Linked DNA regions of Homo sapiens: region 2 is linked to region 1. The links come from fine-mapping of genetic effects on gene expression. A gene starts in region 1. The other region holds a variant in brackets. All regions are shown on one strand. Distances are between the middles of the regions. Region 1 holds the start of FZD7 (frizzled class receptor 7). Region 2 has its middle 100 kb from the start of CDK15.

The links. PIP is the estimated chance that this variant, and not a neighbour inherited with it, causes the effect.
Region 2: its variant is the best candidate, but not a certain one, in a credible set for the expression of FZD7 in blood mononuclear cells (TOPMed, PIP 0.62).

What each region holds. Positions count from the first base shown.
Region 1 is chr2:202,031,605-202,035,988 of GRCh38, forward strand. FZD7 (frizzled class receptor 7) reads left to right here and starts at 2,251. Exons shown (of 1, transcript NM_003507.2): 1 at 2,251-4,384. The coding sequence starts at 3,044. RefSeq lists silencers at 1,833-2,382, 2,493-2,572 and enhancers at 3,135-3,975, 3,173-3,292.
Region 2 is chr2:201,905,053-201,909,436 of GRCh38, forward strand. No RefSeq gene overlaps it. Among named protein-coding and RNA genes, the nearest start is that of CDK15, 100 kb to the left of the region's middle. The variant A/G (reference allele first, on the strand shown) is at 2,347.

The sequences.
Region 1 (4,384 bases):
GGTTTTAGTTGCAGTTGAGACAGTATTTTATCCTGTCAGTTTTCATTTTATTTGATGACAGTGCTTGGTATTTCTTCCTCAATAAGCAAAGATGACTTAGATCAGTGGCCTGATGAATAAGCATGAAATTTTGATTTAGAAAAGGAGGATATCCTGAAGCTCATGGAGAGAAAAAAGGAATCTAACCCCCCACCACACATACTTTAAATGACAAAGCAAAGCAGCAGCATTGTCTTTAAGCAACATATTTCAACCGAAGATCAACACTCCCCGATGTTAGGTAATAGAAATAATAATTTAGAAAGAAAAGGGGGGCCCTTTTAAAAACACAAAGAAGGAATGAAACATTTTTAAAGCAGGTATCGTATTACCTTCAGCACATGTCCCAAAGAAAAGGAAAAAAAGGGTGGGGGGGTCCGGGAGGGAGGGCGAAACTGATGCTTGGGAGGAAGAAGGCGACTCCCGCTGAGGGCCGGATGGAGGATGTGATCAGTCTAACACTCTGCCTTGGCCCAAAGGCTTCCTTCCGCCCTTTCGACCTATTAACAGGAGTGGGGAAGGACAAAGAACCGTGAATCGGAAAGAACGATTCCCAGCAATCTTCAGTGATCGAAAATAAATAAAGAAAAACAGAGAAAGCCAAAGTCTCCCATGGAAGGGAACCCAATTAATTGTCTTCGATTTCAGAATGAGTTTTTTTCCTGCTGTAGAAGAAGCGCACGGGAGGCAGCAGAGACAGCAACTTCTGCCAAGGTTCAACCTGATCAGAAATCGCTCAGAGCTCCAGCACCCGGGACTGAGGCAGAAGGGCTCCGCCAGGAATAACGTTTTTTAAAGCACAGGATTGCTGTGTGTGTGTGTGTGTGTGTGTGTGTGTGAGAGAGAGAGAGAGAGAGACAGAGGAAAGAGGAGGAGGAGGAGAGATTGATTGATTGATTTTTTTCTTTTCCTTCTCAACATGTCACTTTCCTGCATGGGAATTCCTGATATTCCTGGCAGCCCGGAGAGAGGGGAGAGGCCCCCTGGTGACTTATGACCCCCGCAGGAGTAACCAGAGAGCGCGCGCGAGCGCCCAGCGCCTGGCTCAAGACGAAGATTTAACCGAGAACAAAAGAACGTTTGCCAATCAGAAAACGCTACCCGAGAACGAGGATAACCCCGCTTTGTGTTTTGAAAACTCTTTAATTAGCCTGGTTTCTAAGACGCATTAAAACATTCCTACGCAGATTCTAAATGGAGGATCAAATGGTTGCTTCTGCAACGAAGATGGGATCCCGAAAGGGCACACGCCGCAGAACCAAGGCACACGGGGCCACTGAGACGCCCGGCGCGTCGTACAGAGTGTTCCTGGGCGCTCGGTCTCAGGTTACTTCTAGAACCAGTCTCCCCAACGCCGTCTTCGTTTCCTTAAAACCTCGCTAGAGTCACCCCAGTTCCCCAGACTCCAGGCCGTGCGCGCGGGCGGGGTGGCCTGAGCCCGGGTTCCCCGCTCTCCCTGCTTCGGGCCCTTCCTCCGAGGGGTCCTTCCTCCCGCCGTCACTCGGCCCCCTCCGCCCGACTCGGGTTTCTCCTCGGAGGCGGCCCCTCCTCCTTTTTATAACTCGGGGGAGGGGAGAGGGGACTGTGGCCTCGCGTGGACTCTTTGGGTCCGGGGGGAAAGAGGCGATCCGCAAGGCGCACCCCCTTCTCGTCCCGTCCCAAACCCCACATTGAGGACCCGGCGACCCGAAAGCCCCGCCAGAGCCAGCCTTTGCAGTCCTAACGCGACTCCTGGTCACGTCTCTCCCCGAAGGGGCGCTGCGCGGTCCTCGCTCCCCTCAAACGCCGCTGGCGAAGGCGCCCCTGCTCAGGAATGCGCATCTGAGTGCACCAGGAAGAGGAACAAATCTTTGAAGCAAATTCCCTTTCTGCGCGTTTTCGTCCCTGAGCGAATTCAGGGTAAAAGTTTTTCCGAACTTTTCCCTCCCAGTCCCCCGCCCCTCCCCTCAGGAATCCGCCCAGAGCGCCGCGGACACCGCCTCCGCCACTCCCGCGCCCGCCCCTTCCGACTTCCGCCCAATCCGAAGGCGGCCACCGAAAAAACAAAGGCCGCCATTGGGCCGCCGGGGCCTGGGGCCGCCCCCGGAGTGGTTTGTGAATGGGGGGGGAGGGGAGGGGAGGGGAGGGGACGGGAGGGGACGGGAGGGGGCGGGCCGGCCCGGAACCCCGCGAGCCCGACGCTTCTTCTGGCGACCAGCGCGACTCCGAGGCGTTAGTCGGCGCTCACTCCCGGCGGGCGGCGGCGGCGGCGGCGGCGGCGGGCGCCAGGACTCGCTGCTGGGGCTGCGAGGGGCTGGAGGGGCCGGGGCCAGGCCGCGGGCACGAGCGCCTCGCGGTTTCGGACGCAGTGTGACTGGGTTTCCAAAAAGAACTCGCCGTGCTCCCGACTCCGGGGCCGAGATCGGACTCAGCAAGAGCCGGCCGTTTGGCTGAAACTTGGGGCCGAGCTTTTGGGGCTGAAGAAGGAGCGGGGTGTGGAGGAGGAGGCGAAGGAGGCGGCGACGAGCGGAGCCTCGAGGCCAGGAGGCGGGGCAGCACCGCGGAGGCGGCGGCCGGGGCGAGCGAGCGGCGGCGGCAGGGGTTCTCCTAGCGGGGACCGGACCAGGCGCGGGGGGCGTGCGCGCTGCGGTGCGCCGGGGGTCCAGAGTCTTGGGCAAACTTTGAAGGGTGCCGGAGCCGCTTGTTGCTCCTCGCGGCGGAGGGAGCCGCACCGTTACGTCCCCGCGGGGAGAGCGAGGCGGCCCTCCTCGGCGCCCCCAACCCAGGCTGACGAGTTTTGGGCCCCCGGCGGCCCTGCGAGTGCAGGGCGGCGGCGTCTGCGGCGCCTTCGCGGCGCGGGCACCCAGGCGGCAGCGCCCTTTGCTCCACGCCGCCCACGGCCCGGCCCCGGCGCCGTGAGGACTCTCATGCGTCGGGCGCGGCGGCGCCTCCCCGCATCCAAGCCTCTCCCAACCGCCTCGTCGCACTCCTCAGGCTGAGAGCACCGCTGCACTCGCGGCCGGCGATGCGGGACCCCGGCGCGGCCGCTCCGCTTTCGTCCCTGGGCCTCTGTGCCCTGGTGCTGGCGCTGCTGGGCGCACTGTCCGCGGGCGCCGGGGCGCAGCCGTACCACGGAGAGAAGGGCATCTCCGTGCCGGACCACGGCTTCTGCCAGCCCATCTCCATCCCGCTGTGCACGGACATCGCCTACAACCAGACCATCCTGCCCAACCTGCTGGGCCACACGAACCAAGAGGACGCGGGCCTCGAGGTGCACCAGTTCTACCCGCTGGTGAAGGTGCAGTGTTCTCCCGAACTCCGCTTTTTCTTATGCTCCATGTATGCGCCCGTGTGCACCGTGCTCGATCAGGCCATCCCGCCGTGTCGTTCTCTGTGCGAGCGCGCCCGCCAGGGCTGCGAGGCGCTCATGAACAAGTTCGGCTTCCAGTGGCCCGAGCGGCTGCGCTGCGAGAACTTCCCGGTGCACGGTGCGGGCGAGATCTGCGTGGGCCAGAACACGTCGGACGGCTCCGGGGGCCCAGGCGGCGGCCCCACTGCCTACCCTACCGCGCCCTACCTGCCGGACCTGCCCTTCACCGCGCTGCCCCCGGGGGCCTCAGATGGCAGGGGGCGTCCCGCCTTCCCCTTCTCATGCCCCCGTCAGCTCAAGGTGCCCCCGTACCTGGGCTACCGCTTCCTGGGTGAGCGCGATTGTGGCGCCCCGTGCGAACCGGGCCGTGCCAACGGCCTGATGTACTTTAAGGAGGAGGAGAGGCGCTTCGCCCGCCTCTGGGTGGGCGTGTGGTCCGTGCTGTGCTGCGCCTCGACGCTCTTTACCGTTCTCACCTACCTGGTGGACATGCGGCGCTTCAGCTACCCAGAGCGGCCCATCATCTTCCTGTCGGGCTGCTACTTCATGGTGGCCGTGGCGCACGTGGCCGGCTTCCTTCTAGAGGACCGCGCCGTGTGCGTGGAGCGCTTCTCGGACGATGGCTACCGCACGGTGGCGCAGGGCACCAAGAAGGAGGGCTGCACCATCCTCTTCATGGTGCTCTACTTCTTCGGCATGGCCAGCTCCATCTGGTGGGTCATTCTGTCTCTCACTTGGTTCCTGGCGGCCGGCATGAAGTGGGGCCACGAGGCCATCGAGGCCAACTCGCAGTACTTCCACCTGGCCGCGTGGGCCGTGCCCGCCGTCAAGACCATCACTATCCTGGCCATGGGCCAGGTAGACGGGGACCTGCTGAGCGGGGTGTGCTACGTTGGCCTCTCCAGTGTGGACGCGCTGCGGGGCTTCGTGCTGGCGCCTCTGTTCGTCTACCTCTTCATAGGCACGTCCTTCTTGCTGGCCGGCTTCGTGTCCCTC
Region 2 (4,384 bases), 130 kb before region 1:
ACCCGGAAGCCAGTGTTCTCTTGCTAAAAAACAAATCAGATGATGTCACTATCCCCCCTAAAAAAATCTCTATCAGTCATAGGATAAATTCTGAACCAGCTCTTCAGCATGGCCCCAACTGAGTACTCCAGCTGGCTCCATCAGCCTCCAGGCTCACTCGCTTCCTCTACACTCAGCCACGTGGAATTTCTCAGTATTCCCTGAATGCAGTATTCTGTTCACATCCCTAGCTTTTTGCACTTTCTGTCCCCTCTGCTTAGAATGCCCTCTTCCATCCTCTCTGCCTGGTGAACTCTTATCCCTCAATGCTCAGCTGAAAGGTCCTCCAGCCCAGGGTGAGTTGCTCTCTTCTCTGGGATCCCAGAGCACTCTGTTGCTATGTACATCATAGTATTGGTCCCATTTCATTGCAATTATTAGTTGACACTTCTTTCTTCTTCTTCTTCTTCTTTTTTTTTTTTTTTTGAGATGGAGTTTCACTCTTGTTGCCCAGGCTGGAGTGCAATGGCATGATCTCAGCTCACTGCAACCTCTGCCTCCCGGGTTCAAGTGATTCCCCTGCCTCAGCCTCCCGAGTAGCTGAGATTACAGGCATGTGCCTCCATGCCAGGCTAATTTTGTATTTTTAGTAGAGACAGGGTTTCTCCATGTTGGTCAGGCTGGTCTTGAACTCCCAACCTCAGGTGATCCGCCCGCCCCGGCCTCCCAAAGTGCTGGGATTACAGGCATGAGCCACCACATCCAGCCTTCTTTATCCTTTTTAAAAACTGACAGCGTTAGGAGATTAGAAGAATGCTTAGCTTTTTAATTTTATCCCCAGTGTCTAGTGTAAGTTGGACATTGAGAAGATGTTCAATCAATGTTGGTTAAGCGAATGAATTGGAAACACCACCACTTGCTGCCTTCCACTGAGATCAAATCATGGTGCCATTTTGCTTTTCTTTCCAGAATCAGTAAAGATCATATATCTCATATCATACACATATGACTTAGTAATCACATACCACAAACACGTGATTAGGAGCCAACCAGATCAAGTCTGTCACTTGCTGACCTTGGTTTTCTAATCTTTAAAATAAGGTCAATAATGCCTATTTTGTAGAGTGAGTGTGAAGATTCATTGTATAACACCCAGCAGCATGCCTGACACAGACTAGGCACTAAATAAATTAAAATGTTTATTATAATAATAAGTAAATAAAACTCACTGAAAAGAAAGTTAAACTGAGCAGCACTTCTGTTTATACATCTGTTTCTCTCTTCAGTGTGAGCTGCTGAAAGGCAAAAGCTGTCTTATTTATCCGTGTGTTCCCTGGGGCGGGGAACACAGTAGGCATTCATTAATTAATTCGGTCGCTCATTCACCAAGCATTTATTAAGCTAATGAATGAAATGAATAATATTTGGGTTAGAATGATGGCTTGCTGTTTGGGGCACAGAGAGACTCACACATTTGTCTGTCTTACAAAACAGAGAATCACAAGTTTGGCCACTGGAAGGTGTCTCAGAAATCATTTTTAAAGGTTCTCATTTACAGGTGAGAAAAGGGAGATAACTAACCAGGAAAGCCATTTTAATTTCAATATTGAGGATAACATTTCTAGGTTGGGAGTGGATGCTGACCAAGTAGGAAAGCAAGTTCACATTTGTAAAAGTTCTTGGGTGGGTGATACTTAACTAGGACAGTGCTTGGTTTTTCATGGTGAGAAACTGGGCAGTTGAGAAGAATTTTAACAAAAATCATCAGAGGCACTTTTGAGTATTGTCAATTCCATATTATATACTTTATCTGGTGGAAAATAAAGCACCTTCTACCCAACGTGCATGTAAATTTATGTTGCTCTGTCCTTTTAAAGGGCAGGTAGAAGGCAAAATGTAGGTCATTTAACAGGTGTCGTTCCAGGCAACAACAAAGAACAGATAAAAAAGCATGTAGCAGATGTAGTCGTGTAAATAAGCCTCTTTTTAAAAATGAATCACCACATGTCCCCAAGATCAGAATCACTCCCGGGAACCTGGTGTGGAGTCTCCCAGATGCAGAAGAAAGAGGAATGAATGAATGAATGAATGAATGAATGATCCAGACCAGCCAGAGACTAAACTGCAAGCAACGTTAGGTTTCCCTGTGACCATTCAGACTTAATGTGACTCTATGAGAAAGCACTGTTGCAGGCCGGGGATTGGCAGGCAGCCCCGGCCCCCAGCCTCAGATAACAAGCTGCTCTCCAAGAACACGTGCTAGGAAAAGTGCTTGATCAGAGTGTCAGCTTGTGGACTGAGTAGGAACACTAAGTGGTTTTGTCTGTCACCTCCTTCACCCCAGCTGGAATTTGGCCATAATCTGAT[A/G]GAAACACTTTGCCCACTTTCAGGAGAATTTTCCACTATCAGTAAGGCTGCTTTTTCATACTTCGGCTATCACCAAAGCCTTTCAGAACACTTGTACTACTATCGCCCAGGGGAGCTTATATGTCTCAAGGGTAGGGGGTGGGGGACCAAAACCATTCTGAGCATGGAACACTCAGTTGATTCAGGTTTCATCCATGTTGAATTTCAGTCCCTGTTTCCTGAGGACTAGACTGTACTAGATGCTGTCCTGGAATCATGTCTTCATTAGTCCCCTGGGCCACATGACCGGTGAGTGAGTAAGCTGGGCTTCAAACTCAAATCCAGCCCCTGAGGTTTCAATGTCCATACTTGAACGTCTACTCGTGATGTCTTCATGTCACTGTGAAGAGGACTGACAGGGCTTCAGAAGCTGCTGCGTGGGAAAGGGTTAAAAGTGTCAGAGTGCCTGGGTTCAGATCCTGACTCCACAGCTTTGTAGCTGAATGCCTTTCGGCAGGTTACTTAACCTCATTAAGCCTCAACTTCCTCATCTGTAAGAATGGGTCCAGCAATAGTACCTGCCTGTAAGGGGGTTATCATGAGGCTTGAAAGGGTTTGACTCATGACAACTGTATAATAAATGATAGTTACTAGTATTGTCATACACATCACAAATACAATCAACATTATGGATTTACTCCCATCTAGGCATGAATAGTCGTGTGTTTATGTGTACACAATGTGACAAAGAAGAAACACAATAGCCACAATTTATCGGGCACTTATTATATGTCAGGTAGTAGAATAGGGGTTCTGCACACATAACCTCATGCTTTTCATATATATGACCTGATTTATTCCTCATAGCCATCTGTGAAGTAGTTAATATTATTTTTATTATTATTATATATTTTTTTGAGACAGTCTTGCTCTGTTTCCCAGGCTGCAGTGCAGTGGTGCGATCTCGGCACACCACAACCTCCGCCTCTCGGGTTCAAGTGATTCTCATGCCTCAGCCTCCCTAGTAGCTGGGACTACAGGCGTGCGCCACCACACCCAGCTAATTTTTTGGTATTTTTAGTAGAGACAGGGTTTCACCACGTTGGCCAGGCTGTTCTTGAACTCCTGACCTCAGGTGATCCGCCCACCTCAGCATCCCAAAGTGTTGGGATTACAGGCGTGAGCCACCATGCCCAGCCAGTAGTTAATATTATAATCCTCCCTTTCAGATGAAGAAAATGAAGCTCGCCAGGCACAGTGGCTCACGCCTGTAATCCCAGCAGTTTGGGAGGCCGAGGCAGGCAGATCACTTGAGGTCAGGAGTTCAAGACCATCCTGGCCAATATGTTGAAACCCCATCTCTACTAAAAATACAAAAATTAGCTGGGCATGGTGGCACATGCTTGTAGTCCTAGCTACTCTGGAAGTTGAGGCAGGAGAATCACTTGAACCTGGTAGGTGGAGGTTGCAGTGAGCTGTGACAGTGCCACTGCACTCCAGCCTGGGTGACAGAGTGAGATTCCATCTCAAAAAAAAAAAATAAAAGAAAATAAAAGAAAAAAGAAAATGAAGCTTACACAAGTTAAGTGACTTGCTTGGAGTCACACAGTTGATATTATATATGGTGATGCTGAGCTTAGATTCCAGAACTGCTTTGAGAGCCTATGCTTCTAATCACTATTCTACAGTGTCTCTCTGAGGCAATAGGCTTAAAAAAATAGATTCCAAAAATTGCTGCTTTCAAACGTGTTGTCTTTTAAAGAAATCTCTTTGAAAAGTGCCAGCTTACCCCATCAATACTGCCATTGTTCAGGCTCTTTGGCCTTCAGAACCATACACAATCCTCACGAGAAAATGAGTCTCAATTTTATCATCCTCATCTTTTAATCTAAAATGGTATTACTTAACTTGATCATGCACCTTATTCCCCGGACTTTGATCTAAATGAATTTTAGCTGTTAAAAATCAAATCCACCTTTAAAGGATAAATATTTGTCCTCATCAAGATACTCCATTCACTTCAGTGTCGAAAAAGAAACGATCCAGAGTGTTTTTAACA